7 separate regions of the Homo sapiens genome follow, and regions 2, 3, 4, 5, 6 and 7 are each linked to region 1. The links come from fine-mapping of genetic effects on gene expression. A gene starts in region 1. Each other region holds a variant in brackets. All regions are shown on one strand. Distances are between the middles of the regions.

Evidence for each region. PIP is the estimated chance that this variant, and not a neighbour inherited with it, causes the effect.
Region 2: its variant is fine-mapped to the expression of TRIOBP in whole blood (INTERVAL, PIP 0.90).
Region 3: its variant is fine-mapped to the expression of TRIOBP in gastroesophageal junction (GTEx, PIP 0.99).
Region 4: its variant is fine-mapped to the expression of TRIOBP in whole blood (INTERVAL, PIP above 0.99).
Region 5: its variant is fine-mapped to the expression of TRIOBP in whole blood (TOPMed, PIP above 0.99).
Region 6: its variant is fine-mapped to the expression of TRIOBP in whole blood (INTERVAL, PIP 0.98).
Region 7: its variant is fine-mapped to the expression of TRIOBP in monocytes after LPS (Quach 2016, PIP 0.95).

The regions. Positions count from the first base shown.
Region 1 is chr22:37,695,017-37,699,092 of GRCh38, reverse strand. It overlaps TRIOBP (TRIO and F-actin binding protein), which reads right to left and starts at 2,045. Exons shown (of 24, transcript NM_001039141.3): 1 at 2,004-2,045; 2 at 1,397-1,505.
Region 2 is chr22:37,789,181-37,793,256 of GRCh38, reverse strand. No RefSeq gene overlaps it. Among named protein-coding and RNA genes, the nearest start is that of H1-0, 14 kb to the left of the region's middle. The variant TCACTGCAACCTCCGCC/C (reference allele first, on the strand shown) is at 1,901.
Region 3 is chr22:37,586,245-37,590,320 of GRCh38, reverse strand. No RefSeq gene overlaps it. Among named protein-coding and RNA genes, the nearest start is that of LGALS2, 8.2 kb to the right of the region's middle. The variant C/T (reference allele first, on the strand shown) is at 2,241.
Region 4 is chr22:37,752,645-37,756,720 of GRCh38, reverse strand. It overlaps TRIOBP (TRIO and F-actin binding protein), which reads right to left. Exons shown (of 24, transcript NM_001039141.3): 13 at 1,737-1,844; 14 at 1,531-1,620; 15 at 1,062-1,171. Among named protein-coding and RNA genes, the nearest start is that of H1-0, 51 kb to the left of the region's middle. RefSeq lists enhancers at 700-1,899, 3,547-4,076, 3,982-4,076. The variant C/T (reference allele first, on the strand shown) is at 1,558.
Region 5 is chr22:38,089,628-38,093,627 of GRCh38, reverse strand. It overlaps BAIAP2L2 (BAR/IMD domain containing adaptor protein 2 like 2), which reads left to right. Exons shown (of 14, transcript NM_025045.6): 8 at 3,954-4,000. Among named protein-coding and RNA genes, the nearest start is that of SLC16A8, 7.4 kb to the right of the region's middle. The variant G/T (reference allele first, on the strand shown) is at 2,115.
Region 6 is chr22:37,998,481-38,002,556 of GRCh38, reverse strand. It overlaps a transcript of POLR2F not described here. Among named protein-coding and RNA genes, the nearest start is that of MIR4534, 12 kb to the right of the region's middle. RefSeq lists a silencer at 3,681-3,975 and an enhancer at 3,365-4,076. The variant G/A (reference allele first, on the strand shown) is at 2,344.
Region 7 is chr22:37,766,771-37,770,846 of GRCh38, reverse strand. TRIOBP (TRIO and F-actin binding protein) reads right to left here. Exons shown (of 24, transcript NM_001039141.3): 19 at 2,671-2,773; 20 at 1,660-1,819; 21 at 1,472-1,585. Among named protein-coding and RNA genes, the nearest start is that of H1-0, 36 kb to the left of the region's middle. The variant A/GA (reference allele first, on the strand shown) is at 2,280.

The DNA of each region.
Region 1 (4,076 bases):
CTCGGCTCACTGCAACCTCCGCCTCCTGGGTTCAAGCAATTCTACCTCAGCCTCCCCAGTAGTATCTGGGATCACAGGCATGCACCGTCATGCCTGGCTAATTTTTGTATTTTTAGTAGCAACGGGGTTTCGCCATGTTGGCCAGGTGAACTCCTGACCTCAGGTGATCCGCCCCCTTCGGCCTCCCAAAATGCTGGGATTACAGGTGTGAGCCACTGCATCCGGCCCCTAATGTCTTTTTTGGGGAGGTGGGGGCAGGGTCTTGCTCTGTCACCCAGGCTGGAGTGCAGTGGCTCGATCATAGCTCCTTGCAACCTCAAACTCCCGGGCTCAAATGATTCTCCTGCCTCAGTCTCTGGGACTGAGTAACTGGGACTACAGGTGTACGCCACCACGCCCAGCTAATTTTTTTCTTTTTTATTTTGTAAAAATGGGCTCTTGGCCAGGTGCGGTGGCTCACGCCTATAATCCCAGCACTTTGGGAGGCTGAGGCAGGCAGATCACTTGAGGCCAGGAATTCAAGACCAGCCTGCCCAACATGATGAAACCCTGTCTCTACTAAAACTATAAAAATTAGCTGGGCGTGGTGCGCATGCCTGTAATCCCAGCTACTCAAGAGGCTGGGGCAAGAGAATTGCTTGAACCCAGGAGGTGGAGGTTGCAGTGGAGCTAAGATCGCCCCGCTGCACTCCAGCCTGGGCAACAGTGTGTCTCAAAAAAAAAAAAAAAAAAAAAAAAGGCTCTTGCAGTGTTACCCAGGCTGGTTTTGAACTCCTGAACTCCTGACCTCAAGTAATCCTCCTCCTTCCCTCAAAGTGCTGGGATTACAGGTGTGAAGCATCATACCCTTCTGAAACCCTGGTGTCTTTCTTTCTTTTTTTTTTTTTTTTTTTGAGACAGAATCTCGGTCTATCACCCAGGCTGGAGTGCAGTGGCGCGATCTCGGCTCACTGCAACCTCTGCCTCCCGGATTCAAGCAATTCTCCTGCCGCAGCCTCCCAAATAGCTGGGATTACAGGCATGTGCCACCATGCCCGGATAATTTTTTTGTATTTTTGGTAGAGACGAGGTTTCACCATATGGGCCAGGCTGGTCTCGAACTCCTGACCTTGTGATCCACCCACCTCGACCTCCCAAAGTGCTGGGATTACAGGCTTGAGCCACCGCGCCCGGCCGCCCTGGTATCTTACTTGTGCAAGGGTTCTCCTTTCTGGGTGCCCCTAAGGCCACCAACATCCATGCCCTGGAGTGGAGCTGGGTCAGGAGAATCACTTAAAGATGGCCTCCCCACTCACACAGAGCCCCAGGGGGAGGGTGGGGGGTGGGAGGAACCCAACATCCCAAAACACCTGCAGCTTTTGGTGCCCCCAGGTCACCTGCCCACATCCATCCTCACCTGCTGTGTTCCAGGGGATCAGGCTTTTGTGGCCAATCTTGGTGGAGAGCTGAGGAATTTCACCTCCTCCCCTGGGACAGCCAGGGCCAAGGCTCCTCCATCATCAGACCTGGAGAAGGGAATGCGGTGGGGGCGACAGCAAGGCACGGTGGGGAGAGGGCTACCCACTGGTCCTTCCGTGGCCCCAGGGTCTCTGATCCTCCCCGGGCGGTCGTCCTCCCGACTCCTGGTGGTGGAAGAGGGGCGCATCGGCCCCGCCCGTCCTGGGCGTTTCTCTCCTGGTCTGGCCACATAAAGGAGCGTCGCCTAGCAGGAGAACGCCGCTCATTTTCCTGGGGGTGGGTAGGGGGCTCTACTCCACGTGCCCCTCGCTGCTCCCGTTTCCTCCCCTACCCACAACCAATAGGCAGAATCCTTCTCTAAAATGCACTTGAGATGTGGATATAATAATCAAAACCTTAAGCAGCTACACATGCCCCACCCAGAGAATGGACCCGGGACCCTCTCCATCCAGGCATTCAGCCAGTTCCTCCCCGGATCCCTCGACCCCTACCCCTCCTGTAGGCCTCCCCCTACCAGCTCCTCTTTTCTGAGGCCCAGTGCTAACCTTGGCTGGGTTTCCACGCACAGGGGCTGCCGGGGTGGGAGTGCCAGGGTCATGGCCTCTTTATTTTAACAATGAATCAGAGCGATGCTCGGGAGGTGGAAGGCCACGCCCCTGCCACGCTCGCATAGGCTCTCTCTGGGTGCCTCATTTACATGAAGACTGTGGGACTCTGTGGGACTGGACAAACCAGAACAAGGGGCGGGGCGGAGGCAGGCGGGGCGCAGATACCTCTGAGAGCGGGACTCACTGCACGTTTAGCCTGGGCCGCCTGCAGCCCTTGCCCGCTGGGGGTCCCCAGGGAGCCCTGGAGAGGGCTGGCACTGGCGGATCTGGCTCCTTCTGACCTCTTTCCCGTTGGTTCATTCTGCCGACAGTCCGCTGGGCTGGCTTTAGCACAGACCTTGGACTAGAGTCTTAACCTCTCTGTCATGACAGTTTTCTTACCGAGGAGGCGGAGGTTGCAGTGAGCTGAGATAGCGCCATTGCACTCCAGCCTGGGCGACAGAGCAAAACTCTTGTATAAAAAAGAAAAAAAAAATAGCCTGGCGTGGTGGTGTGCGCCTGTAGTCTCAGCTACTCAGAAGGCTGAGGCAGGAGCATCGCTTGAACCCGGGAGGCGGAGGTTGCAGTGAGCCGAAATCACACCACTGCACTCCAGCCTGGGCAACAGAGTGAGACTCCGCCTTAAAAAAAAAAAAAAAAAAAAAAAAAAAAACTTGTTTCCCATCTTTTTTCCTTTTGGTTGATATTTGCCAATTGTGGCGACTGGGATGGGAGGAGGAGGGCGAAATTCACTGGACAGGGAGGAAGGTTGCAGCAGGAGTCCAGGAGAGATGGGTGCAGTGATGAGACAGGGAAGGTAAACTAGATTCAGACACTTGTAGGCAGGTGAGCTTGGCACTAGGGTCACAGAAATCTTAGATTATTTTGAGAGTTGTTGGGGATCACCTGGGGGTTGGATTCAGACAGGATTGGCTGAGAACCTACATTGACACAAGCTTGTGCCCAGAGCAGAAACAGAAATGACTAAGATACAATTTCTCACTCAGAAAGCTCTGGTCTGGTTCGAGGGACAAACCAGGATTCACTGTGTTCAGTGTTTAAAAGAAGGAAACACCTACTATCATGGGAGGTCAGGTGGAGAAAGGAGGAAGGCAGAGAAGGCTTCTCCTTGGAGGTGGCTCAAAGGTGAGGAGATCGAGAAAGGCTGAGAACAGCCTGCAAACCTCTGAAGGTGGCTGGGGGAGGCCAATGCTAGCTCAGAACAAGGCGGGCATTTCTAGCAGTCCTCACAAGGGAGCAGGCAGTGAGCTCTCCAAGCTCAGGAGGAACTGAAGCCCCTCACCAGAGCCACCTGCAAGCCAAAGGAAGGTCAATGGCTCAAACCTGGGGGCGTCAAGGTCGTCAGCACCACTGGGACCTTGGAAAGGATGGACGCTGAGGCTTATATGACCCCAGAACACCTGCCCCCACAGTTCCTCACCTCACCCCCCTGGGGAGAGCTCAGGCCACCCCAAAACAGATCGTACCAAAAGAAGTTTTATTTTAATGGGCTGAGCCCAGCCTCAGGTAACTATGGCCACAGCTCATCATGTACTAGCACAGGGCCTGACCTTGGTGTGAAAACCGAGGATGGATAAATGTCTGCTGTGACTTTAGCTCCACACAGATGGATCCCCTCATGACAGCCCTTTATATATTTGGCTTCTGTGAAATAATCTGCTGATTATACCCCAACACCCATTCTCTCATTTTTTTTTTTTTTTTTTTTTTGAGACAGATTCTCGCTCAGTTGCCCAGGCTGGAGTGCAGTGGCGCGATCTCTGCTCACTGCAAGCTCCGCCTCCCGGGTTCATGCCATTCTCCTGCCTCAGCCTCCCAAGTAGCTGGGACTACAGGTGCCCGCCACCACGCCCAACTAATTTTTTGTATTTTTAGTAGAGACGGGGTTTCACCGTGTTAGCCAGGACGGTCTTGATCTCCTGACCTCGTGATCTGCCCGCCTTGGCCTCCCAAAATGCTGGGATTACAGGTGTGAGCCACTGCGCCTGGCCTCATTCTCTCATTTTTGAG
Region 2 (4,076 bases), 94 kb before region 1:
TTGTTGTTGTTTATTTGTTTGTGACACAGGGTGTCACTCTGTCACTAAGGCTGAAACACAAATCATGGCTCACTGCAACCTTGAACTCCTGGGCTCAAGTGATCCTCCTGCTTCAGCCTCCCAAGTAGCTGGGACCACAGGTGCGCATCACCACGTTCAGCTAATTTTTAAAATTTCTGTAGAGATGGGGCCTCACTATATTGCCCAGGCTGGTCTTGAACTCCTGGCCTCAAGTGGTCCTCCCAGCTTGGCCTCCCAAAGTTCTGGGATTACAGGAAACTCCATGCTCTTAATCAACTCTCAAAACTGCCTTTCTCTTAACCTGGCAGGAGGTGGGCAAATTTGTGGCTAGTCTGGGGACCGCCAAGAGAAATGAGATTGGGCCCCAGTTCCTCTCTCCTGATAGGATTAGCTGCTATCTGACCCATCAGGACAGTCCTGTCCAGCTGGCAGAGAGGACACTCATGCCTCAAAGGAAATAACTCACTCCATGGGAAGTAGATGTGGACAGGTGACCCAAGCTCAGTGCCAGAGGCCAGGCATTGGTGAGGGACACAGGTGCCATGTGTGGTTTGGGCTGAAAGTCCTGTTGGACCTGCCCACTCTGGCGTCATTTCCTTTTTCTTTCTTTCCTCTTCTTTTTTTTTTTTTTTTTTTTTTTTTGAGATAGAGTCTGGATCTGTCATCCAGGCTGGAGTGCAATGGCGCAATCTCGATCGCGGCTCACTGCAACCTCTGCCTCCCAGGTTCAAGCGATTCTCCTGCCTCAGCCTCCCAAGTAGCTGGGATTACAGGCATGCACCACCACGCCTGGCTAATTTTTGTATTTTTAGTAGAGATGGGGTTTCACCATGTTGGTCAGGCTGGTCTTGAACTCCCGACCTCAGGTGATCCGCCCACGTCGGCCTCCCAAAGTGCTGGGATTACAGGTGTGAGCCACTGTGCCCGGCCTAAGTTTTGTATTTTTAGTAGAGATGGGGTTTCACCATATTGGCCAGGCTGGTCTTGAACTTCTGACCTCAAGTGATCCACCTGCCTCAGCCTCCCAAATTGCTAAGATTAAAGGTGTGAGCCACTGCGCCTGGCTTGGCATCATTTTCCTTTCAGGGAGCTGAGCTCCTGGAGTGAACTGAGAGGACTGCCTCGGGGCCCACGCAGTGCACCACTAGGCCTTGCAGAGTAGGACTGGCCTTCTTTGGACAGAGTGAGTCCTTGGGATTCCCAGACTATTCTGGAAGAGACCTCAAGAGGGAGATGCTGGGCTTCTTAACAATAAATGAATGAGGATGCAGGAGAGATTGGTTAAAAAAGCAACCGCAAGCACTGTGGCTAGGGTTGTTCTCCAAGCTGGTGAAGTGGCCCGTGAGTGCGTGTACATGTGTGGACACTCCATGTTCATAGTAATGATTTTCTCTGAGAAATGGATTTGGGTCACAGTGCACTGTTATTTTTTACTTTATACACTTCTTTTTGTTTGTTTGTTTGGTTTTTTTTTTGTTTTTTTTTTTGAGACAGAGTCTTACTCTGTCGCCCAGGCTGGAGTGCAGTGGCGCAATCTCGGCTCACTGCAAGCTCCGCCTCCCGGGTTCACGCCGTTCTCCTGCCTCAACCTCTCCGAGTAGCTGGGACTACAGGCGCCCACCACCACGCCCGGCTAATTTTTTGTATTTTTAGTAGAGACAGGGTTTCACCGTGGTCTCGATCTCCTGACCTCGTGATCCGCCTGCCTCGGCCTCCCAAAGTGCTGAGATTACAAGCGTGAGCCACCGCGCCCAGCCTAGTTTATACACTTCTATACTGTTTTAGTTTATAAACAATAAGCGTGTCTTTTTTTTTTTTTTTTTTTGAGACTGCGTCTCACTCTGTCGCCCAGGCTGGAGTGCAGTGGCACGATCTCGGC[TCACTGCAACCTCCGCC/C]TCCTGGTTCAAGTGATTCTCGTGCCTCAGCCTCCCAAGTAGCTGGGATTACAGGCACTACTTGCCACCACGCCTGGCTAATTTTTGTATTTTTAGTAGAGAGGGGTTTCACCATGTTGGCCAGGCTGGTGTTGAACTCCTGACCTCAGGTGATCTGCCAGCCTCGGCCTCCCAAAGTGCTGGGATTACAGGCGTGAGCCACTGCGGCTGGCCATGTGTATTACTTTTTTTTTTTTTTTTTTTTGAGACAGGGTCTCTCTCACTCCAGTTGCCCAGACTGGAGTGCAGTGGCTTGGCTCACTGCAGCCTCTATCTCCCTGGCTCAGGAGATTCTCCCACCTTTGCCTGCCGAGTAGTTAGGACTTACAGGCACGCGCCACCACGCCTGGCTAATTTTTTGTATTTTTCGTAGAGACGGGGGTTTCACCTGCCATCATGCTCGGATAATTTTTGTATTTTTGTATTTTTGTAGAGATGCGGTTTCACTGTGTTGGCCAGGCTGGTCTTGAATTCCTGACCTCAAGTGATCCACCTGCCTTGGCCTCCCAAAGTGCTGGGATTACAGGTGGGAGCCACCATGCCCGGCTGGGAAAATATTTTCTCCTCCATGAACCATACTCTCAATGCACTAACTGGTGCTGTGACAAGCACCAGGGACAACAGGGACTGCTCTCTGGTGAGGGCCATGCCCAACTGGGGCCCAAATGCAGCTGGCATCAGTCCCTGCAGGTATTCACATATGCTTTGGTGCTGGCTGGGGGTGGAGCACACAGCGCTGCTTGCAGGGAGGAGTGGGTTTCTTCAGAAACGTTTAGGGCCCTTCCCCCATAGACATTAAAGATGTTAAACATACCTTAGGAGGCAATGTGGGCTGGTAGGAGAAGCACCCAAATCTGCTGTGTGACCTGAGGGCATTTGCTAATCCTCTCTGGGCCATGTGGGTGATCCTGTAAACTGAAGGTTTGGATGGACTTCTTCTATCTGCTAGAAGTCCCAAAGTCTAGCATAGTGGTGAGGCCCAAGTACTGGAGGTCCAGGTTGTATGGTTTCAAATCCCAGCCCTTCCAAGTCATAAGTATGAGGGTCTTGGCAAAAATAATAATGACCCTTCTGTGCCTCAGTTTCCTCCCCTGGGCATTATAGTAATTGGCGATAATAATGGCATTTGCCTGATAGAGTTTTCTTGAGGACTAAATGGATATGTATGTTATAAATACATACGTGTGTACATACTCTGTATGTAGCAAATGATAGATATCATATGAGTTATATATCATTATATATCTCACTTAGAAGTTCCTGACACAGGCCGGGCATAGTGGCTCATGCTTGTAGTCTTGGCACTTTGGGAGGATGAGTGGGGGGTATATCACCTGTGGTCAGGAGTTCGAGACCAGCCTGGCCAACATGGTGAAATCCTGTCTTTACTAAAAATACAAAAATCAGCCGGGCATGGTGGCACGTGCCTGTAATCCCAGGTACTCGGGAGGCTGAGGCAGGAGAATCACTTGAACCCGGGAGGCGGAGGTTGCAATGAGCCGAGATCGCGCCACTGCATTCCAGCCTGGGAGACAGATCTCCGTCTCAAAAAAAACAAAAAAATGGAATTCCTGACACAAAGTAAGTGCAGTTTAAGTATTAGCTGTTTTAGTATTAGCAGTTAAGTATTAGCTGTATCATCCTTGGTATTTCAGACACCTGGACAGAAATGACGTGTTTACCCAAAACAAGGCAGCAGAGGTTCATGACCATGTTAAGTATCTTTGTTTTTGGCTAAGCTTTATATCCATTCAGTGTGGGAGCAATGGATTTTCTTCCACTGATCCAAAGCTTTGATTGGCAGTTCCACGTGACTTTACTTGAGTTTTTACTGTTTAATTTTTAAAAATTTATTTGTAATTAATTATTTTTTTGAGACGGAGTTTCACTCTTTTTTTTTTTTTTTGAGACAGAGTTTCGCTCTGTCGCCCAGGCTAGAGTGCAGTGGTGCGATCTCGGCTCCGTGCAAGCTCCACCTCCCGGGTTCACGCCATTCTCCTGCCTCAGTTTCCTGAGTAGCTGGGACTACAGGTGCCCGCCACCATGCCCAGCTAATTTTTTGTATTTTTAGTAGAGACAGGGTTTCACCCTGTTAGCCAGGATGGTCTCGATCTCCTGACC
Region 3 (4,076 bases), 110 kb after region 1:
TTACAGGCATGAGCCACCATGCCCGGTTAATTTTTGTATTTTTAGTAGAGATGGGGTTTCACCATGTTGGCAGAGCTGATCTTGAACTCCTAACCTCAGGTAATCCACCACCCTTGGCCTCCCAAAGTGCTGGGATTACAGGTGTGAGGCATCGCGCCTGGCCAAGAATCGAAACCTTAATTTATAAAACCAAACAAGTGCCAGTTGCCTGCTAGGAAATGGACAGACTGGTGCAGCAGTGGTGAGGTCTCTTTACCTCTTTGCAAAATTGGCTCCTGTGCTGGGCTGAGGATGTGGAGTGTGAAGGCCAGAGAGGGAAGGGCTGGAGGACTCTAGGATTCTGCAGGGAACAAAGGTGGGCCAGTGAAATCCCCAGCTTGGGAGGTGGCTGGTAGGGGCAGGAGGAGCTGGCCGAGGGGGAAACTGAAACCCAGAGATCCTTAGACATTGAGCTGGAGGTCATCATACCCAACCCCTTTTGCTCCTGCTGGGGGAACAAGGGTTGGGGCTGTCACGCGTACAGAGGAGAGAATGGAGCAGAGAATGCCTGCTCCAGGAAGGTCCCAGATAAGCACCTAATTAGCAAACTAAGATGCAGGCGAGAGACCTCGCAATGGCCCAATGTATGCAGAGTGCTGAGCAAATGCCAGCCAATTAGCTATTAAATACAGAATAATAATAGTTGAGTACCTACTATGTGCCATATTCTGTATGCCAAGCCCATTACATACATTCTCTAGGAAGCTGAGGCTACCTGGCCTGCCCAAGGTCACACAGCCAGTAAGAGGCAGCGAGGACTTGAGGCCAATGCCATTCCATGAAGGTGCCGGAGCAGGCAGCAGCTCTGGACACCCAGCCACAGTCTCATCTGCTCTCCTGCAGCCCATGGTCTCCCCAGGGGCTCTGGGAATTAGGGGAGAATTCATGACCGCTCTGGTTGGTGGGTCTCGGGGGTTGTGAACTTGACCTGCAAGGGTATTACGGCACCTAGGTCCTGCTCCCATCCTAAAAATAAAGGGTCAGCTTCTGAAATGGACATTTCCCTGAAGGCCTGTACCTGTTGATTTTGGCCTTCAGGAAAATGTCCATTTAAACCAAGCTGCTTCTGGAATCCTTTGGATTCTGATTCTGGGAGATGAGGCCCTGGGGGCTCATAGGTGTTTCCCCTTGAGGAAGGAGGCTTGTATATGTACGGGGTGCTGCGGGGAGGCAGCCCAGATGGTCCTGAGACTGCAATCATCAGAAAAGCAGTGATGGCAGCAGAATCTGTGTGGCCCAGGGCAGAGCTGGGGCCAACTGTGAGAGGAAGGGGATTGCCCCCAGGGACAGACTTCAGTAAGAGTGGGGGTTTCCAGTGGCCATAGGTGCTCAGGGTGGATCAGAAGCCTTGGGAGTGGGTGTGCTCCTGCGACTAGGGCTGCACTTGGCGGGGGACCTCCTTTGGTTGTTTACCACATTAGAGATGGATAAATGCTCCTCTCCCTGCTTGGCAAACACAAAGATTGAGGCGGATATAGTCCTGTCCTTGGCAGATATAATCCTGCCAGAAGCTGGGGGTGGGGTGGGAATGCTGGGGTGAGCAGCGTTGCTTCATTGCTTCTGTTGTTTTAGCCTCTCCTCACCATCCCCAGGTACCCGCCCGCATGGACAGCTGTGACTGGGTGATTAAGATGCAGAAGGCTCAGGTCAGGCGCTGTGGCTCACGCCTGTAATCCCAGCACCTTGGGAAGCCAAGGCAGGCAGATCACCTGCGGTCAGGAGTTCAGGAAAAGCCTGGCCAACATGGTGAAACCTCGTCTCTACTACAAATACAAAAATTAGTCGGGCGTGATGGCGGGTGCCTATAATCCCAGCTACTTGGGAGGCTGAAGCAGGAGAATCACTTGAACCTGGAAGGTGGAGGTCACAGTGAGCCGAGATTGCACCACTGCAGTCCAGCCTGGGCAACAGAGCGAGACTCTGTCTCAAAAAAAAAAAAAGGCTCCACTATCCATGGAAAGACTGTGTGGCCTGGGCCAGGGAGAAGGAACTGCACTCAGGACTCAGGTCACCTGTCTCTGAGGAAGAGCACTCAAGGACCACCCAAGTCACAGAAGCAGCTTGGTTTATATCTTCAATTTCTAAAGACACAGAGATGGAAAATCTTCTTGCCACTTATAAGAAGGTGGACACAGAACCTGATGATCTTTTCTGTAAATCCACCCAGCACCACACGTGCATAAGTTGGCGTGGCCCTGAGA[C/T]GGAGGCTTCCTGGTTCAAAAGGCTGGGATGATAAGCCAGGGAGGGGGCAGGAGGGATGGAGGGAGGGGCCGTGCTGCACCAGATTGGGGCCCTGAAGATACCCACCCTTTGGGGCTCTATGATGAGCAATTCCTCCTGCTGATCCACCATCCATGCACCCACCCCTCCCTCCACCTCCTCACCCATCCACCCACTTAACCATGCATCTTTTTTCTTTTTTCTTTTTCTTTTCTTTTTTTTGAGATGCAGTCTCACTCTATTGCCCAGGCTGGAGTGCAATGGCCCGATCTCGGCTCACTGCAGCCTCTGCCTCCCAGGTTCAAGTGATTCTCCTGCCTCAGCCTCCCGAGTAGCTGGGATTACAGGTGCGCACCACCACGCCCAGCTAATTTTTGTATTTTTAGTAGAGACGGGGTTTCTCTGTGTTGGCCAGGCTGGTCTCGAGCTCCTGACCTCAGGTAAGCCACCCACCTCAACCTCCCAAAGTGCTGGGATTACAGGTGTGGGCCACCACGCCAGGCCTCTTTTTTCTCCTTTTTTGAGGCAGAGTTTCACTCTGTCACCCAGGCTGGAGTACAGTGGCACAATCTCGGCTCACTGCAACCTCCTGGATTCAAGCAATTCTCCTTTCTCAGCTTCCAGAGTAGCTGGGCTTACAGGTGTGTGCCACCACGCTTGGCTAATTTTTGTATTTTTAGTAGAGACAGGATTTCACCATGTTGGCCAGGCTGGTCTCGAACTCCTGAGCTCCCTCTCCCTGACTCCCCTCTCCCTCCACACCAGTTGCAAGTCTGAGCCTCTGGACTTCAAGTTGGGGATCCCACGACCCCTCTTTGGGTTCAGTTAATTTGTTAGAGTGGCTCACAGAAGTCAGGGAAACATTTGTGTGTACTGGTCTATTATAAAGGATGTTATAAAACATACAGATGAAGAGATGTTTAGGGCGGGTTATGGGGAAGAGATGCAGAGCTTCCCCTCCCACCTGGGAGCACCATCCTTCAGGACAGCCATGTGTTCAGCTATCTCAGAAGCTGCCCAAACCCAATCCCCTGGGGCCTTTTATGGGGACTTTATTATGCCGGCATGATTGACCTCTGTGTAGAACTGTGAATGGGCAAAAAGGATCTGATCTAATATTACTAGACGAAGTGTGGAACCCCCGCAAGGCCCGTCTGTTCAGATTCTTCTTGGCCTCTCTGTGCAGCATTTCTTACTCCAAGGGATGGAGCAGGACCCCTTCTGAAATGAGGGTCTTATGACAAGGTAGGTCAGGGAATTTCTTTTTTTTTTTTTTTTTTTTTTTTGAGATGGAGTTTTGCTCTTGTTGCCCAGGCTGGAGTGCAATGGTGCGATCTCGGCTCACTGCAATCTCTGCCTCCTGGGTTCCAGAAATTCTCCTGCCTCAGCTTCCCGAGCAGCTGGGATTACAAGCATGCACCACTACGCCTGGCTAATTTTATATTTTTAGTAGAGATGGGGTTTCTCCTTGTTGGTCAGGCTGGTTTCGAACTCCCAACCTCAGGTGATCCGCCTGCCTCGGCCTCCCAAAGTGCTGGGATTACAGGCGTGAGCCAACGCGCCCTGCCAGGGAATTTCTTTACGGAAGAATTTCTGTGTTTTTTTTTTTTTTTTGAGATGGAGTCTCATTCTTGTCACCCAGGCTGGAGTGCAATGGCGTGATCTTGGCTCGCTGCAGCCTCCCAGGTTCAAGCGATTCTCCTGCCTCAGCCTCCTGAGTAGCTGGGATTACAGGTGCGCATCACCGCGCCCTGCTAATTATTTTGTATTTTTAGTAAAGACAGGGTTTCGCCATGTTGGCCAGGCTGGTCTCGAAC
Region 4 (4,076 bases), 58 kb before region 1:
TGACTATAGGCTGCCGAGTGGGTGTGGCAGGTGGCTCCCCTGAAACGGCAGAGCGAGCCCCACCAGGCCAGGACTGCATACCTCGGGGCTGTTCTGAAGGGAGACATGAACATCTATCTCGATGAAGTTACTGTGCCCGGGGTTTCTTTCTTAAAGCAGCTGGGCCTAGATGCTAAATAACAGTCCAACTGCACAGTGCTTCAGAGTTCACAAAGTGCTCTGGGCACATCCTGGCACATGTACAGACATGACATGCTAACGTGACAGATGGGGACTCTGAAACCTAGACAGGAAAGCCTCTGGCCTAAGGCTGAATAGCCGCGGTGTGGCCAGTCTGGGGGACTCGGCCTCCGGGCTCAGGTGATCCTCCCACCTCAGCTGACAGGCGCACCCTACCACGGCCAGCTGATTTTTAAATTTTTTGTAGGGACGAGGTCTCACTATATTGCCCAGGCTGGTCTTGAACTCCTGAGCTCAAGTGATCCTCCCATCTCAGCCTCCCAAATCGCTGGGATTACAGGTGTGAGCCACTACACCCAGCCCAGCCCCCTTTAATACCACACTCTGTTCCCGCTGCCCAGCAGCTCCAAGTCCCAGCCCGCCATGGGCATCTGGGTATAAACTGTGGGGGGCTCTGCCACTCGGTAACTCAGCCCTCCTGCCCCAGTGCCCGTGGCAGCCTCCAGAAGGAGTGAGCTCCCCATCCCGGGAGGTGTGGGCGCCAAGGCTGAACTACCTAACCACCCCTTCCTAACACAGGCTTAGACACGGCCCCCACGGCACAGACACAGAGACAGAACAGCCACCTGGCAGGGGCTTTTGACTCACAGGCATCTCCTCCAAAGAGAAGAGGCCCCATCACATTTGAGAAGACAGATCAAACCTCAAACCCTCAGTGTACTTCTGGATGATACCGAGAATGCTCACTACTCTCTTCCCATGTTGTTGACAGAGAAACGAGGGCCCAGAAAGGTGCAGCCCTCAGGTGAGTACCTAGAAACCCACTCGGGGACGCAAGGGTAAGTGCCTCCCTCAAGGCCCCAGTCCAGCTTAGTACGTACTTGGTGACATCTGGGGCTGAAGTTGGACGTACGGTCTTTCTCAGAGCCTCGATCCAGTTCCGCCGGATGCCTGAGGTCATGGCCGACAAGGTATAGACAGCATCCTTGGTCTGCAAGGCCACCGCATGGGTAGGTTGCCACATGGCCAGCCGCATGACTCCCTCCCCACTATGGACCCCAGGGAGGGTGGCCCTTCCTTCCCAGGATGCATCTAAGGTCTTGAGTCTGGGGTGGGCAGGGGGTACAAAACCTCCCTTCCATTGGCCTGGGAAGAGCCCTGCTGGCTCCAGCGTCTCCCCCAGATATGCTAAGTGTTGGCATCACAGCTCTGGCTCTGAAGATAGGGCCTCTGGGTAAATGAGTGAAGGGATCCAGTCTCCATGGTGAGCCATGTTCAACACCAAAACCTCCCCCAGGGACCTCCAGCCATGCTGCCCACCACCAGCCCCCAAGCTGCACACAGCCTCACGTGGATCTGGAAGCCATAGTTGCGCTG[C/T]ACCGCGTACTCAGTGACATCCGTGCAGGAACGCAGGTCGATCTCACCATCCAGCTCATCTGCCTGGAGCAAGAGGGCCCACTATGGTCCGTGTGGGCCCTGGTGTGACCCACCCCAGTGAACCCAGCCAGGCCACCCCAGGCCCTTCCGGGGGTTCATCAGTACACCCATGGCCTCACCTCCTCAGCAGTGGAGTCTCTGTAATATTTGAGACTTGAATCTGTCAGCACAAACCAATGTTTCTTCCACTGCGAAGTAGAGGTGGTGGTGAGCGAGGGGGAGGGAGGCTGCAAGGAGGATGGAATGAAAGAGCCAGTGTGTGTGATTGTACAGGTGTCCTGTGTGGCTGCCAAACTCACTATGCTGCACACAGGAGGGGTGGGGAGGCGGAAAATGCCAATTTGAGACCTGGCCCCTCCATTTCCTCTCTGAGCCTCAGGGGTAGCATCTGTGAAATGGATTGGTTTCCCCTCCGTAACCACACCCTCCCTTTCCTTCTTGGAGCTCCTTTTAAGATTGCCAAGGCTCCTCAGGCACCCCGGACCCAGTGCAGACAGGGAGGGGTGATGACCTGTGTAAGCAAGTCAGGGACTCAGCGGGGCCAGGACGTTACGTCTTTTTCCATATTCCCCCAGATCATCACCATGGTCAGGGACAATGGTCCCCTGGGAAGTAGGACTGGATGGAGCCCTGGAGTAGGAGTGAGTGCCAGCCACAATCTGCTGCCTTTTTTTTTTTTTTTTTTTGAGATGGAGGAGTTTTGCTCTTGTTGCCCAGGCTGGAGTGCAATGGTGCAATCTCCACTCACTGCAACCTCCCCCTCCTCCTGAGTTCAAGTGATTCTCCTGTCTTAGCCTCCCGAGTAGCTGGGATTACAGGCGCCCGCCATCATGCTCAGCTAATTTCTTGTATTTTTAGTAGAGATAGGGTTTCATCATGTCAGCCAGGCTGGTCTCAAACTCCTGGCCTCAGGTGATTCACCTGCCTTGGCCTCCCAAAGTGCTGGGATTACAGGCGTGAGCCACCGCGCCCAGATGCACGGTCTGCTTCTTGAACTGTAGGCTGGCTACCCACATCCGCAGCAGGTGAGAGCGCCCTAAGCTGTAAGTTTAGGATTTGTGATTGGGTGCCTTCCTGCAGTGCCTGTCTCTGCTCCAGCTGGGGTTAGATTGGCAGGACATGTAGGAAAGGGGTGGGGGCGCCAGAACAGCCTGATAGTATGCCAAGCCCAGCCCACCTCTGGGCTTCTGGTCACTCCACTGGAATGCCAGTCGCGGCCCGCCCACTGCCAGGGTCAGTGCATATCACCCGGTCCCCAGCCCTCCCAGGGTTCCCTCACATCACCAAGCCCTGTCTGTGCTGTTGGTTGTTTCAAGTACTTAGTTTTCTCTCCTCAAGAAGATGGTAAGTTCTCAAGGGGCATGCAACGACGATACCTTCTGCTTCTTTCCACATTGCCTCCCTGAGAAAAGGAGTTTTGTATCCAAGAGTTCCCTTTCTCTCTGTGTGCCTTTAGGCAAGTGTCTCCACTTTTCTGAGCTTCAGTCTTCTGAACCATAAAGTAGGGCTACTAAGAAGTCCCTATAGCTGGGCGCGGTAGCTCGCGCCTATAATCCCAGCACTTTGGGAGGCTGAGAAGGGTGGATCATCTGAGGTCAGGAGTTCGAGACCAGCCTGACCAACATGGAGAAACCCTGTCTCTACTAAAAATACAAAAAAAAATTAGATGGGCATGGTGGCGCATGCCTGTAATCCCGGCTACTCGGGAGGCTGAGGCAGGAGAATCGCTTGAACCCGGGAGGCGGAAGACACAGTGAGCCGAGGTTGCGCCACTGCACTCCAGCCTGGGCAACAAGAGTGAAACTCTGCCTCAGAAAAAAAAAAACAAAAATAAAAAACAAAAAAAGAAGTGCCTAGACCTTCTGGTGAGGCGAGCGGCGCCCATCCTCTCTTGTGTGGATGGCTGTCATGGCCCTTGGCATAGGGATGGACACCAACCAGGTTGCTGGGTTTGTTCTGGGAGGCCAGGCCTCTTAGAAGCATTTTCCTCTCACTAAGTAAACGGAGTTGCTGCTGCAGACCTCAATTGCCTCTCTGTAAAGTAGGACAGGGGTTCTATGCCAAGAGGTTTCTTTAGCTCTTCCAGGCCTAGCCTATGACTGTCTGAGATGGAAGCTGGGTGGAGCTCCATGGGCCTCAGGTGCGCTGAGTTCTGAGCCTGGGTCTGCCCCAGGTGCTCCTAGGCCTGGAAGAGACCAACACCCTCATGGGCCCGTCTCCTGTCTGTGCACCAAGGGGTTGGGCTGGCTGAATTCCCAGGGCCCTTCCAGTTCGGACATTCCAGAACCCTGTGATAGAGGATGACTAATGGCCAGCTCTGGGTGGGGCCTGTAATCCCTCTGCCCTCCGGGGACCCTGGGTGGGGAGGCCAGGAAGGGGTCACTGGCGGGGTGCCGGGCTTTGTGTGAGCCTAGAGAGCAGCCACCAGGGACAGCGGGCAGGCAGCGGGTAGGGAAGGC
Region 5 (4,000 bases), 390 kb before region 1:
GGCTAGTGATGTTAAACATGTTTTCCTGTGCTTCTTAGCTATTTATAGATCTTCTTTGGAAGGAAACTCTTTTTCACCTGTGTTAAACTCCTTTTTGCCTGTAAATAGTTAACCATCAACATTAAGAGAAGAGCTGACCCCCTCCTTGACTGCCTCCTCGTGGGTGAGGGTCCCTCAGGAGGGAGCTGTGGGTTGAACAGGCAGATTTTCCCCTATGCATGGTGTGTTAGTCCGTTGTGCATTGCTATAAAGGAATACCTGAGGCTGGGTAATTTATTTTAAAAGATGTTTATTTGGCTCTCAGTTCTGCAGGCTGTACAAGAAGTGCATTGCCCGCATCTGCTCCTGGCGAAGCCTCTAGAAGCTTACAATCATGGCAGAAGGCAAAGGGGAAGTTCATATCACATGGCCAGAGAGGGAGCCGGTGGGGTGCCACACTCTTTCTTTTTTCTTTTTATTTTAAGATGGAGTTCTGCTCTTGTTGCTCAGGCTGGAGTGCAGTGGCATGATCTCAGCTCACTGCAACCTCCACCTCCTGGGTTCAAGCGATTCTCCTGCCTCAGCCTCCTGAGTAGCTGGGATTACAGGCATGCACCACCATGCCCGTTAATTTTTGTATTTTTAGTAGAGACGGGGTTTCACCATGTTGGCCAGGCTGGTCTTGAACTCCTGACCTCAGGTGATCCACCCACCCACCTCGGCCTCCCAAAGTGCTGGAATTAAGGTGTGAGCCACCGCGCCCGGCCACTGCAATCTTTTAAACAAGGAGATCTTGCATGAACTCATACCACTCATTACCGTGGGGTACAGCACCAAGCCATTTATGAGGGAGCTGCCCCCATCACCTCCCACTAGATCCCACCTCCAACACTGGGGGGTCAGATTTCAAGATGAAATTTAGAGAGGACAAATATCCAAACCATATCACATAGGGAGCAAGTAACATGTTGTCTGACCCAGCTGGACTTTAAAACATCCAAGATCTAACTCCTAAGATAGCTAAGCATATATATTTACTTCTTGTTCTATTTATAAGTAGAAGGCACATTTGGGGTGGGCGTGGTGGCTCATGTCTGTAATCCCAGCACTTTGGGAGGTCGAGGTGGGTGGATCACCTGAGATCAGGAGTTCAAGACCAGCCTGGCCAACATGGTGAAACCCCGTCTCTACTAAAAATACAAAAATTAGTCAGGAATGGTGGCGGATGACTGTAATCACAGCTACTCGGGAGGCTGAGGCACGAGGATGGCTTGAACCCGGGAGGCAGAGGTTGCAGTGAGCCGAGATTGCGCCACTGCACTCCAGCCTGGGCAACAGAGCAAGGCTCGCTCTCTCTCTCAAAAAAAGAAGGCAGCCTTAGAATAAGATTTAAAGAACTCTAGGTGCCCGGGCACGGTAAATTGTCTTTCTTATTCATCTTCGCTAATTAGTCTTTGCTTAGTCCAAGTCTAGTCAGTAACGTGCCTTCCCACCTCATCCTTAGCTTCTCTCGTTTACTGCAGCTGTGCAAATGTATCTCCAGGATAAATTCCTAGAAGTGGAATTGGTAAGCCCAAGAATATAGTCATTGGTTGCACCAGTTTACACTTCCATCAGTGATGTATGAGTTTCTGTGCTTCTGCACCCCTTGACAACAGTGTATGAGCAAACTTTCTGATCTTGGCTAATTAGAAAGGTAAAAATGGTATCTCGGTGTGGCTTTACCTCATACTTGTCTTAAACGCGAGCTTGACATCTTTTCATGTTTCAAAGCCATTGGATTTTCTGTGCTGTGACATGCCAGTATCTTTTCATCCACTTATTAATTTGTAGGAGCTCTTGATATGTTACTGAAACCAGCTTTTTCTTGGTGATGAGTTGCAAATACAATAGCCAGTTTGCCATTATCATTTGCCTGTGTTATGATTGGTTTTGCTATACAAAAACATTATTTTTATTTAGTAAAATGTATCGGTCTTTTCAAGTTTATGGGTTTGGTGTCATACTTAGAATGGCTGTTTCACTTCGTAAATATATTTTTAAAATTTTTCCCATGGCCTCTCTGATGGTTTTGAAACCGTATGCAGTGTTTCTTCTCACCCACCATTTATTTTAATTTTTGTGGTACATAGTAG[G/T]TGTATATATTTATGGGGTACATGAGGTGTTTTGATACAGGCATGCAATGTGTAATCATGACATGCTGGAGAATGGGTATCCATCCCCTCAAGCATTTATCCTTCGTGTTACAAACAATCCAATGATACTTTTAAATCCCTTTTAAAATACGACATGTGACTGGGTGCAGTGGCTCACACCTGTAATCCCAGCACTTTGTGAGGCTAAGGCGGGTGGATCACGAGTTGAGGACTTTGAGACCAGCCTGGCCTATATGGTGAAACCCTGTCTCTACTAAAAATACAAAAATTAGCCAGGAGTGGTGGCGCACGCCTGTAGTCCCAGTTACTTGGGAAGCTGAGGCAGAATAATCACTTGAAGCCGGGAGGCGGAGGTTGCAGTGAGCCAAGATCGTGCCACTGCACTCCAGCCTGGGCAACAGAGCGAGACTCTGTCTCAACAACAACAACAAGAAAGATATGCAGAACCTAATGCTCTCACTTTGCTTATGTCTCTGAAACTTCTGCACAAAGGCCTTCGGGTTTTATCTTTGTGCTATTCTGCTAATTAGTTACTGCAGGGAAACAGAGGGGCTGTCCACTTAGTGACCAGCTAGACTAGTTGCTCCAGTGATGGGAGGCACCAAGCCTTCCCGTTATTGCTGCCTGAGTTTGACGTGAGGTTTTTAGTCATGGGGCCAGGTTCAAGGCAGAAATCATTGAAAGTGTAGTCGTAGGGGGCATCTTCAAGGACAGACCAACACAGACCCCTTCAACGCTTACTGAATGTGACACCTTGAGCCAGTCACTTAACTTCTCTGACCCTCAGTATCTTCTTTTATAAACTGGAGATAATAATTGCACCTACCACCCAGGGCTATTGCGAGAATCAAGTAAGATAATGCAGATAAAGCGTTTAAAGCAGGGCCTGGTATGGAGTCACTGCTCGACAAAGGGAGCTTTTCTTAAGGTGACCGTCTTGAGCTAGGCCTTGAGGGACAGGGATGTTTGAAAAGAGGGAGCGATCTTTATGGCTGGAGAATGCAGCATTCTGATTGTACCTGGGATTTTATTATGACTGAGTGACAACACAGAAAGGTCAGTGCCATTGAAAGAAGTTTTAGGCCAGGCTCGGTGGCTCACGCCTGTAATCCCAGCACTTTGGGAGTCCGAGGGCAGGCAGATCACCTGAGGTCAGGAGTTTGAGACCAGCCTGGCCAACATGGTGAAACCCCGTCTCTACTAAAAATACAAAAATTAGCTGGGCATGGTGGCAGGCGCCTGTAATCCCAGCTACTCGGGAGGCTGAGGAAGGAGAATGGCATGAACCCGGGAGGCGGAGCTTGCAGTGAGCCGAGATCGCGCCATTGCACTCCAGCCTGGGCGACAGAGCCAGACTCCGTCTAAAAAAAAAAAAAAAAAAAAAAAAAAAAAATGCATTTTCCATAGTGTTACTGGGTAAGTAAGTAATGGGACTGGGTTCTTTGGTCGTAGTTTCTATCTAAGCGCCATTCCTGAGCCTATCGCTGCAGGAAGGAGGATGGGGTGATTGAGTGGCCAGGCCTGGGTGCCACCCCTACCCCTGAAGCTGGGCGGTGAGGACAGCCCCGCTCAAAGCACACACATTGACGCGGGAAGCGGGGGGTCAGAGGAAGCTCTTCGTGGAAAATGGAGGTGCCTTTGCCAAAAGTAGAGGGTGCGGGTTGGACGGTGAGCTGGCTTCTGGCTCCTTCCAGCTAGAAAATCCGGTCGTCCCGAGCTGGTAGGGCCTGAGCTCTCAGGTCGAGGGTGTCATTTTGGGTCCCCAGGATTCAGGGAGCCGCCCGGACCTGGCTGACCCCCGTGTCCCCGCCCGGCCAGGCCCGGGGGATGCTCCAGAACCGCGTGCTGCTGTGGAAGGAGCAGTC
Region 6 (4,076 bases), 300 kb before region 1:
TACTAGAAATACAAAAATTAGCCGGGCATGGTGGCAGGTGCCTGTAATCCCAGCTACTCAGGAGGCTGAGGTGGGAGAATTGCTTGAGCCTGGGAGGCGGAGGTTGCAGTGCCCTGGACACTTTATAAGACTCTTGTGGGTCCCACTGACCCCACATTGCATCAAGCATGTTGAAATGTACCCACGTCACATGCTACATAGAACTGGTTGGCTATAAACAAGTTTTAAAGAGTCTTTTTTATTTTTCATTTAAAATTTTGAATAATTTCTCTGTTGCTATTTTTGTATACTTTGGAGCTGGAGTTTTCTTCTTTAGTTCTTAAGCACTTTTGTGGCCCAATAAAAAGTCTAGAAGTGATATGCTTTGTCCAAGTTTGGGGAAAAAAATAAATTAAAAAAAAAAAAAAGGCCAGGTGTGCTGGCTCGCGCATGTAATCCTAGCACTTTGAGAGGCTGAGGTGGATGGATCACCCGAGGTCAGGAGTTTGGGACCAGCCTGACCAACATGGTGAAACCTGGTCTCTACTAAAAATACAAAAATTTGTATTTTCGTATTTTTACAAAATACAGGCATGGTGGCAGGTGCCTGTAATCCCAGCTACTCAGGAGGCGGAAGTGGGAGAATTGCTTGAGCCCAGGAGGCAGAGGTTGCAGTGAGCCAAGATCATGCCACTGCACTCCAGTCTGGGCACCAGAGTGAGACTCCATCCAAAAAAAACCACTTGGCCAGGCAAGGTGGCTCACACTTGTAATCCCAGCACTTGGAAAGGCCTAAGCGGGCAGATCACTTGAGGTCAGGAGATGGAGACCAGCCTGGCCAACATGGTGAAACCCCATCTCTACTAAAAATACAAAAATTAGTCAGGCATAGTGGTACATGCCTGTAATCCCAGCTACTCAGGAGGCTGAGGCAGGAGAATCGCTTGAACCTGGGAGGCAGAGGTTGCAGTGAGCCGACATTATACCATAGCACTCCAGCCTGGGCAACAGAATGAGACTCCATCCAAAAAACAAACAAAGCAACTCTATAGTCCAGGAGCCTCCAATGTCAGGCATTCACTGTCTCCATCCCAGTGCTCATCGCTCTCTGTGTCCCCAAAATGAATAAATTCGTAAATTCCCCTAAAAATCTATCTTTAATCTCTCTGAATCTAATATGATGCAACTCACATTATTTCTGTATCTGTCAACTGTGTCTCTATAAGATACTTCTGTAATTTTTATCTGTTCTCTCTAAAGATCTCTGTTCACAACACACTGGGTGTCCAGCAGGCACGGTCGAGAGCCTGCCATGGCCCATGTGTTACCGTTCTTGAGCCTTGCAACAACTCATGAATAAATTCTATTATCCCTGTTTTACAGATTAGGAAACTGAGGCTGAGAGAGGGGAACTAGCTTGCAAGTAAGAGGCCACAGGGCAAAGAAGGGCTCTCAGGAGTGTTGACTCTAGTCCTTCTCTAACCTCTCTCAACCCCTCCTCTCAGTGGTGCTGCACCCATGCCAGCCGCCACTCCTTACTTGCTCCTTTTCCTACCCTCTGCTTCCAGGCAAGACGCAGATGTCATCTCCGTTCATACCCTTCATCTTGCCTCAACATCATCACCCCATTCCATCCCATAAACACTTCCTGAGTTCCTACTATGTGCCAAGCGCTGTGCTGAGAACTGGAATGAAAATAATGAATGCCAAGGTCACCAGGCTATGAGCTCCGAGGGCAGGGACAGAGCCCACAGCAGAGTTGGTGGGTCCTCATCAGCCCCTGTGAAGTGCCTGTGGTCTCCATATGTTCCCAAAGGAAGCTGGTTTCACTTTGAGCATGTTGGAGAATGTTATTTCAAACACCTTACACCTCCAAAGCCAGGCAGGGAGCCCTGGGCTGCCCCTCCTCAATGGTGTTGGCTTATTCCTCTGGGTGGGGCCTGTGTCCAGCAGCCCCTGGGCTGGTGACACCAACCACCCTAGTGCCCTGCACAGACTGCAGAGGAACACAGGGTCAGCACCATCTCGAGGGGCCCAAAGCCACCCTCCTGATAACCCCCCATATTTGGAAAGCACTTTAGTTTGCAAAAGGCTCCACCTTCTTTCTCCGTGTGTCCTCTCCCCACCCCAGCTATAAGTAAGGAATTTTCCCAGCCCACTTGGCCCCTAGCATCCAAGTTTGGGCAAGAACCCAGGAGTCCAGACTCCTAGCCCAATGTAGAAGAGCCTGCCAACTCTGTTTACTCCACAGTGCCCCAGAAAGGCCCTCTCTTTTCTAGACCTCAGCTCCCTGTCAGTACAATAAGAAGGTCCGGCTGGACAACCGCTAAGCTCCCTTCAGGCTTTAGCATGCCAGAGTCTACC[G/A]TGGGGGCGCAGGTGGCCAACTCCCAGGGGAGGAACCGAGGCCAGTGGCTGCACACACTGTGCCTGCACCATGCCGTCAGGGGAGGCATCATGTTCCGGCAGGACCAGCAGGATGAGTCACCAGATATGGAAATGACGCTGGCACACAGGAGGTCTGGGGGCCAATAAGCTCACCCTCGCCAAAACCACAGCTGAGGAGGAACAGTGCTGGGATCCCTGCGATTCGCCTAGCGGGCACAGGCTGCCAGGTGCAGATCCAGGCAGTCAAATGGTGTGCACAGTGTGCCTTCCAGCCCAAGGGTAGTGGAGGCTGCCCAGCCCTCCAATAACAATAATCATCACAATAAAAATAACAACACACAGTGGTTGGCTATTGTGTCGGGCACTTGACACCTGTTACCTTCTCTTACCTCTGAACCTGCCAGTTATGACATGACCCATTTTCAAGAGGAAACCCCGGGGCTCAGAGAGACAAAGGAGCTCTGCCCAGGTCACAGGGCCAAGGAGTGGGGCACCCTGCTCTGACTGCCCCAAAGCCCTCATCCTCCGCACCCCACTGCCTCTGCGTCCCACAGAGTCTAGGCTCATTTCGGCTCGGTGGCCAGCCTGAGGCCCTGGGGAGGGGAAGGGGTGTCAGGACGCCCAGGTGCAGATGACCTGGGAGGATTCTGACTCAGCCCCACAACTGGAGCAGGAGAGCACCACACCCTCCTAGGCCTCCTGGAGCCTCGCCAAGGCCTTCCTTAGGGTATGACATTCGGATGTCAGGAGACCTGCTGGTCCTCAGTGACCACAGGCCAGGCTGAGGCTGCCACAGGGGCCTGAGCTGACGAGGAAGGCTGAGCCCCCTGTGATGGCCGACAAGCTCCAGCATCCCCACACGCAGGCGGCCAAAGGTGCCTGCAGCCACCCGGTAGAAATGTGTCTGAACTGGGCCTGGAGCCAGGCAAGTGGGGCTCCTGGATCCTGGGACAGAGGGTACAACTCAGGACCCCAGGCTGGCACTCCACAGCACCATCCCCAGGGCATTTCCCACAAGGAGCACCTGGATCTCTCAGCAAAGATGGGGGCAGACTGGGAGAGCCCAGGAACTCAGGGCCAGCTGCCCAGCAGGCCCACCTCGGGGTAGAGGGTACGGCCGTCTGGGAATGAGGGAAGACAGAAGGGGGAGGCCCTGGGTGAGGGAATGACAGGAGGGGGTCTTCATCTTGTGTAGGGACGGGGGCGCATCTGTGGTGAAAAGCAGGACCCATCTTGGGGCGGCGGGTCCTCCTACCAGGGCGGGCTCCTGTACCAGCCAGACCCTAATGCCCTGCCTTTGACATCTCCGTCTCAGCCCCCACCACACCTCTCCTCTCCTCTCCTCTCCTCTCCTCTCCCTCTCTCTCTCCCTCTCACATTCCTCTGGGAGTCGATCAGTGCTTGAGTGACACCCCAGATGACTCTTTGCTATTAATTCCCACACACAGAATGGGCCCCTTGTTCTCTTCTCTCGGAGGAATGGCCGTGGCCAAAGCCATCCCAAGAGTCCCTGACTTAACCCTTCTCCTGGCCGGTCCTCTGCACATCCCACGCCCAGGGCCACAGGGCCAGCAGTAGGGAGGGTGCAGAGAGGGAGTCTGGAAGGAACAGGGGCTCCTTCCAGCCCACAGCCCCTGGAATAAAGTCCCCAGGGTGGGACAGCAGGACCACCCCAACCTGCCCAGGGAGCCTGACAGCAACTCCTCACCTGA
Region 7 (4,076 bases), 72 kb before region 1:
GCCAGGTGTGGTGGCGGGTGCCTGTAGTCCCAGCTACTCGGGAGGCTGAGGCAGGAGAATGGCATGAACCCGAGAGGCGGAGCTTGCAGTGAGCCGAGATGGTGCCACTGCACTCCAGCCTGGGTGACAGAGTGACTCCGTCTCAAAAAAAAAAAGAGAAATAAAATATCGGCTGGGCACGGTGGCTCACGCCTGTAATCCCAACACTTTGAGAGGCCGAAGTGGGCGGATCACCTGAGGTTGGGAGTTCGAGAAGAGCCTGACCAACATGGAAAAACCCTGTCTCTACTAAAAATACAAAATTATCCAGGCGAGGTGGCACATGCCTGTAATCCTAGCTACTTGGGAGGCTGAGGCAGGATAATCGCTTTTTTTTTTTAATATTTTTTTTTTTTTTGAGACGGAGTCTCGCTCTGTCACCCAGGCTGGAGTGCAGTGGCACGATCTCGGCTCACTGCACGCTCCGCCTCCCAGGTTCATGCCATTCTCCTGCCTCAGCCTCCGGAGTGGCTGGGACTACAGGCACCCGCCACCGCGCCCGCCACCACGCCCGGGTAATTTTTTTGTATTTTTAGTAGAGACGGGGTTTCACTGTGTTAGCCAGGATGGTCTTGATCTCCTACCTCGTGATCTGCCCGCCTCGGCCTCCCAAAGTGCTGGGATTACAGGCGTGAGCCACCGCGCCCGGCCAGGAGAATCGTTTTAACCTGGGAGGCGGAGGTTGTGGTGAGCCGAGATCGCGCCACTGCACTGTAGCCTGGGCAACAACAGCAAAACTCTGTCTCAAAAAAAAAAAAAAAGTAAAGAAATAAATACTAAGGCCGGGTGTGGTGGCTCATGCTGTAATCCCAGCACTTTGTGAGGCCAAGGTAGGCAGATCACTTGAGGTCCGGAGTTCGAGACCAGCCTGGCCAACATAGTGAAACTTGTCTCTACCAAAAATATAAAAAATTAGCTGGGTGTGGTGGTGCAGGCCTGTAATCCTAGCTACTTGGGAGGCTGAGGCAGGAGAATCGCTTGAACCAGGGAGGCAGAGGTTGCAGTGAACTGAGATCGTGTCACTACACTCCAGCCTGGGTGACAGAGAGAGACTCTGTCTCAAAAAAAGAAAGAAAGAAAAAGAAAGAAAATACTACAGTGATACTGGCATCACACACATACACACATATTTTCTTACCCCAATATTTCCCAGTAAGGAAGGTGCTGGTGCCATTTTACAGATGAGCTACTGGGACTCAGAAAAGTGGAGTGATTTGCTATGGTACACGGCAGGTAGGTGACACAATGCAGGTGGGAGGGCAGAATGCTGGCTACTGGATGCACAGTAGGTGTTCTAGCCTAGTCAGGCTGGCCCAGCCACTGGGAGACTTGGCTTTCCTGCCACAGGTGATACCCAGCCTATGGCGGGGGTGCCCCATAGCCCCGGGCCCCGAGAACCACTGGGCTGCCTGGTGCTAGTGAGGACACTCACCTCTAGCTCGCAGGAACTCCGCTCGTTGCTGCGCCCGCAGCCATTGCCCATGCCCTGCGAGGCAATGAAGCCGCGCAGCTGGTCTATCTCCTCTGACAGGCGGCCATGCAGCTCCTGGGAGAGGCACGGTGGTCAGGGGAGGGGTGCCGGGACCCACCCGTGTCCCCCCAACCTGGGGCCAGGCCCACCTGGTTGTGGCGCAGCAGCTCCTGGCCCTCCTGCTGGCAGCGGCGCAGCGTGTGCTCGCGCTCCTCAGCCTGCCGCATGAGTGCCCCAATCTCCAGGCACTTCTGCGAGTACTGCTCCGATAGCACCTGCAGCTCTCGCTTCAGTGCCTCCACATCTGACCTGCCCCAGAGGAGGAGCAGAGGAGAGCATAGGTTGTCTTGCTCCTGCCAAGCCTGGAGTCCAGTCAGGTAGACTTAAAGCATCCCAGGACTCTGGGGTTCCCTCTCTAGGTTTGCCTTTAGCCTGCTGTGGGGCTGTGAACCAGTGACAGCTTCTCTGGGCTACAGGTGTTTACCCTAAGTGAGGGTGGCTTGGAGGAGCCCATCTTTTTTTTTTTTTTTAGATGGAGTCTTGCTCTCACTCTTGTTGCCCAGGCTGGAATACAATGGCACAATCTTGGCTCACTGCAACCTCTGCCTCCTGGGTTCAAGCGATTCTCCTGCCTCAGCCTCCCAAGTAGCTAGAATTGCAGGCTCCCGCCACCACATTCAGCTAGCTTGTATTTTTAGTAGAGATGGGGTTTCACCATGTTGGCCAGGCTAGTCTCGAACTCCTGATCCCAGCCTCCCAAAGTGCTGGG[A/GA]TTACAGGCATGAGCCAATGTGCCCGGCTGGAGGGGCCCATCTTTAAAGTTAAAGCCCCTGAAACCTCAACATTCCAAAACTGTGCTCTGGGGCAGGGAGAGGCCTAGTGGTCAACAGTGACACTGCAGCCCAGCTCCAGGGGAGACTAAAGGGGTGAAGAGGTGGGTGGAGGCTGGGACCAGCCAAGACAAGAAGCTGCCTGAAGGACTGTCTGTGAGGACTGGCATGGGGTCTGCCTGAGGACCTTCTGCTTCTGTTTCTTGCATCCATGAGACTGGAGCAGGAATCTCAGCTAGGGGCAAACTGATGTGTCCGCTGCCAAGGGGCCTCAGCAAAGTTCCTCAACCCATAACCATCAGGGTGGGCAGTTGGGCCCCGGCATCATCTTACTGGTGCTGCTTCCGGAGGCCATCCGGGCCCTGCTGGAGACTCCGTGTTTTGCTCAGCTCTCGGCTCAGCTCTTCCTGGTAGGCCTTCTTCATGGCTTCAATGGCTGGAAGCAGGGCAGAGAGGCACAAGAGAGACTGGAGGGGGGTCAGCAGCACCAAGTGCCACCAGCTCTGAGACGCCACATGTACTGGTGGAGTACTATGTGGACTCCACATAGTACTATGCAAGTACTATGGACTTGGACCAAGGAGTGCTATGCAAAGAGCACCGAACCAGGAGTCTAGAGTAGCCCAGGTTGTGTCATAAACTGAGTGGCTTGGGGTAAGCTCTCAACCTCTCTCAGCCCATCTATTAAGGGAAGATAATCCTGTTGGATGGACCCTACTGGGGAGACAGCTCAGGGTCTGACCATTGGTACCTCCTGTTCTAGTGATTTCCAGGTAGGACCCCACCTAGTACACCCCCCCTGCAGACTCTGAGGGCTCTCAAACAAGGCCTATCTGCTTTGACCAGCCTCGTGGTCAAGAGCTCAGGCTCCACAGTCAGCATAAACCGATGTGACTTTGCACAGGTGACTTAACCCCTTGTGCCTCAGATCCCTTATCTGGAAAACAGGGATCGATAACAACAGTACCTTTCCTCCATGGGGTTATTGGAAGGTGTGTGAAGAATTTAGAACAAAGCATGGCTCAGAGTAAATGCCCCAACATTAGCTCCTGCTGGCTTTATTCTCAGATTGTGAGCTCCTAAGGACTGAGACCGAGGCTTTTTTTTTCCCACTCAGGGCCACCCATGGTTTTACCCACAATTCTAAAATCCGAAACTTCTGAACATTGAAAGTTTCTCTCCTTTTTTTCTTTCTTTTTTTTTTTGAGACAGAGTCTCACTCTGTCACCCAGGAGACGGAGTCTCACTCTGTCACCCAGGAGACGGAGTCTCACTCTGTCACCCAGGCTGGAGTGCAGTGGCACAATCTTGGTTCACTACAACCTTTGCCGCCCACTTTCAAGCGATTCTCCTGCCTCAGCCTCCTGAGTAGCTGGGATTACACGCGCCTGCCACCGCGCATGGCTAATTTTTGTATTCATAGTAGAGACAGGGTTTCACCATCTTGGCCAGGCTGGTCTTGAACTCCTGACCTCGTGATGCACCTGCCTCGGCCTCCCAAAGTGCTGGGATTACAGGCATGAGCCACAGTGCCTGGCCTTTTTTTTTTTTGATGGAGTCTTACTCTGTCATCCAGGCTGGAGTGCAGTGGTGCAATCTCAGCTCACTGCAGCCTCTGTCTCCTGGGTTCAAGAGATTCTCCTGCCTTAGCCTCCTGAGTAGCTGGGATTGCAGCTGCCCACCATCACGCCCAGCTAATTTTTGTATTTTTAGTAGAGATGGGGTTTCACCATGTTGGC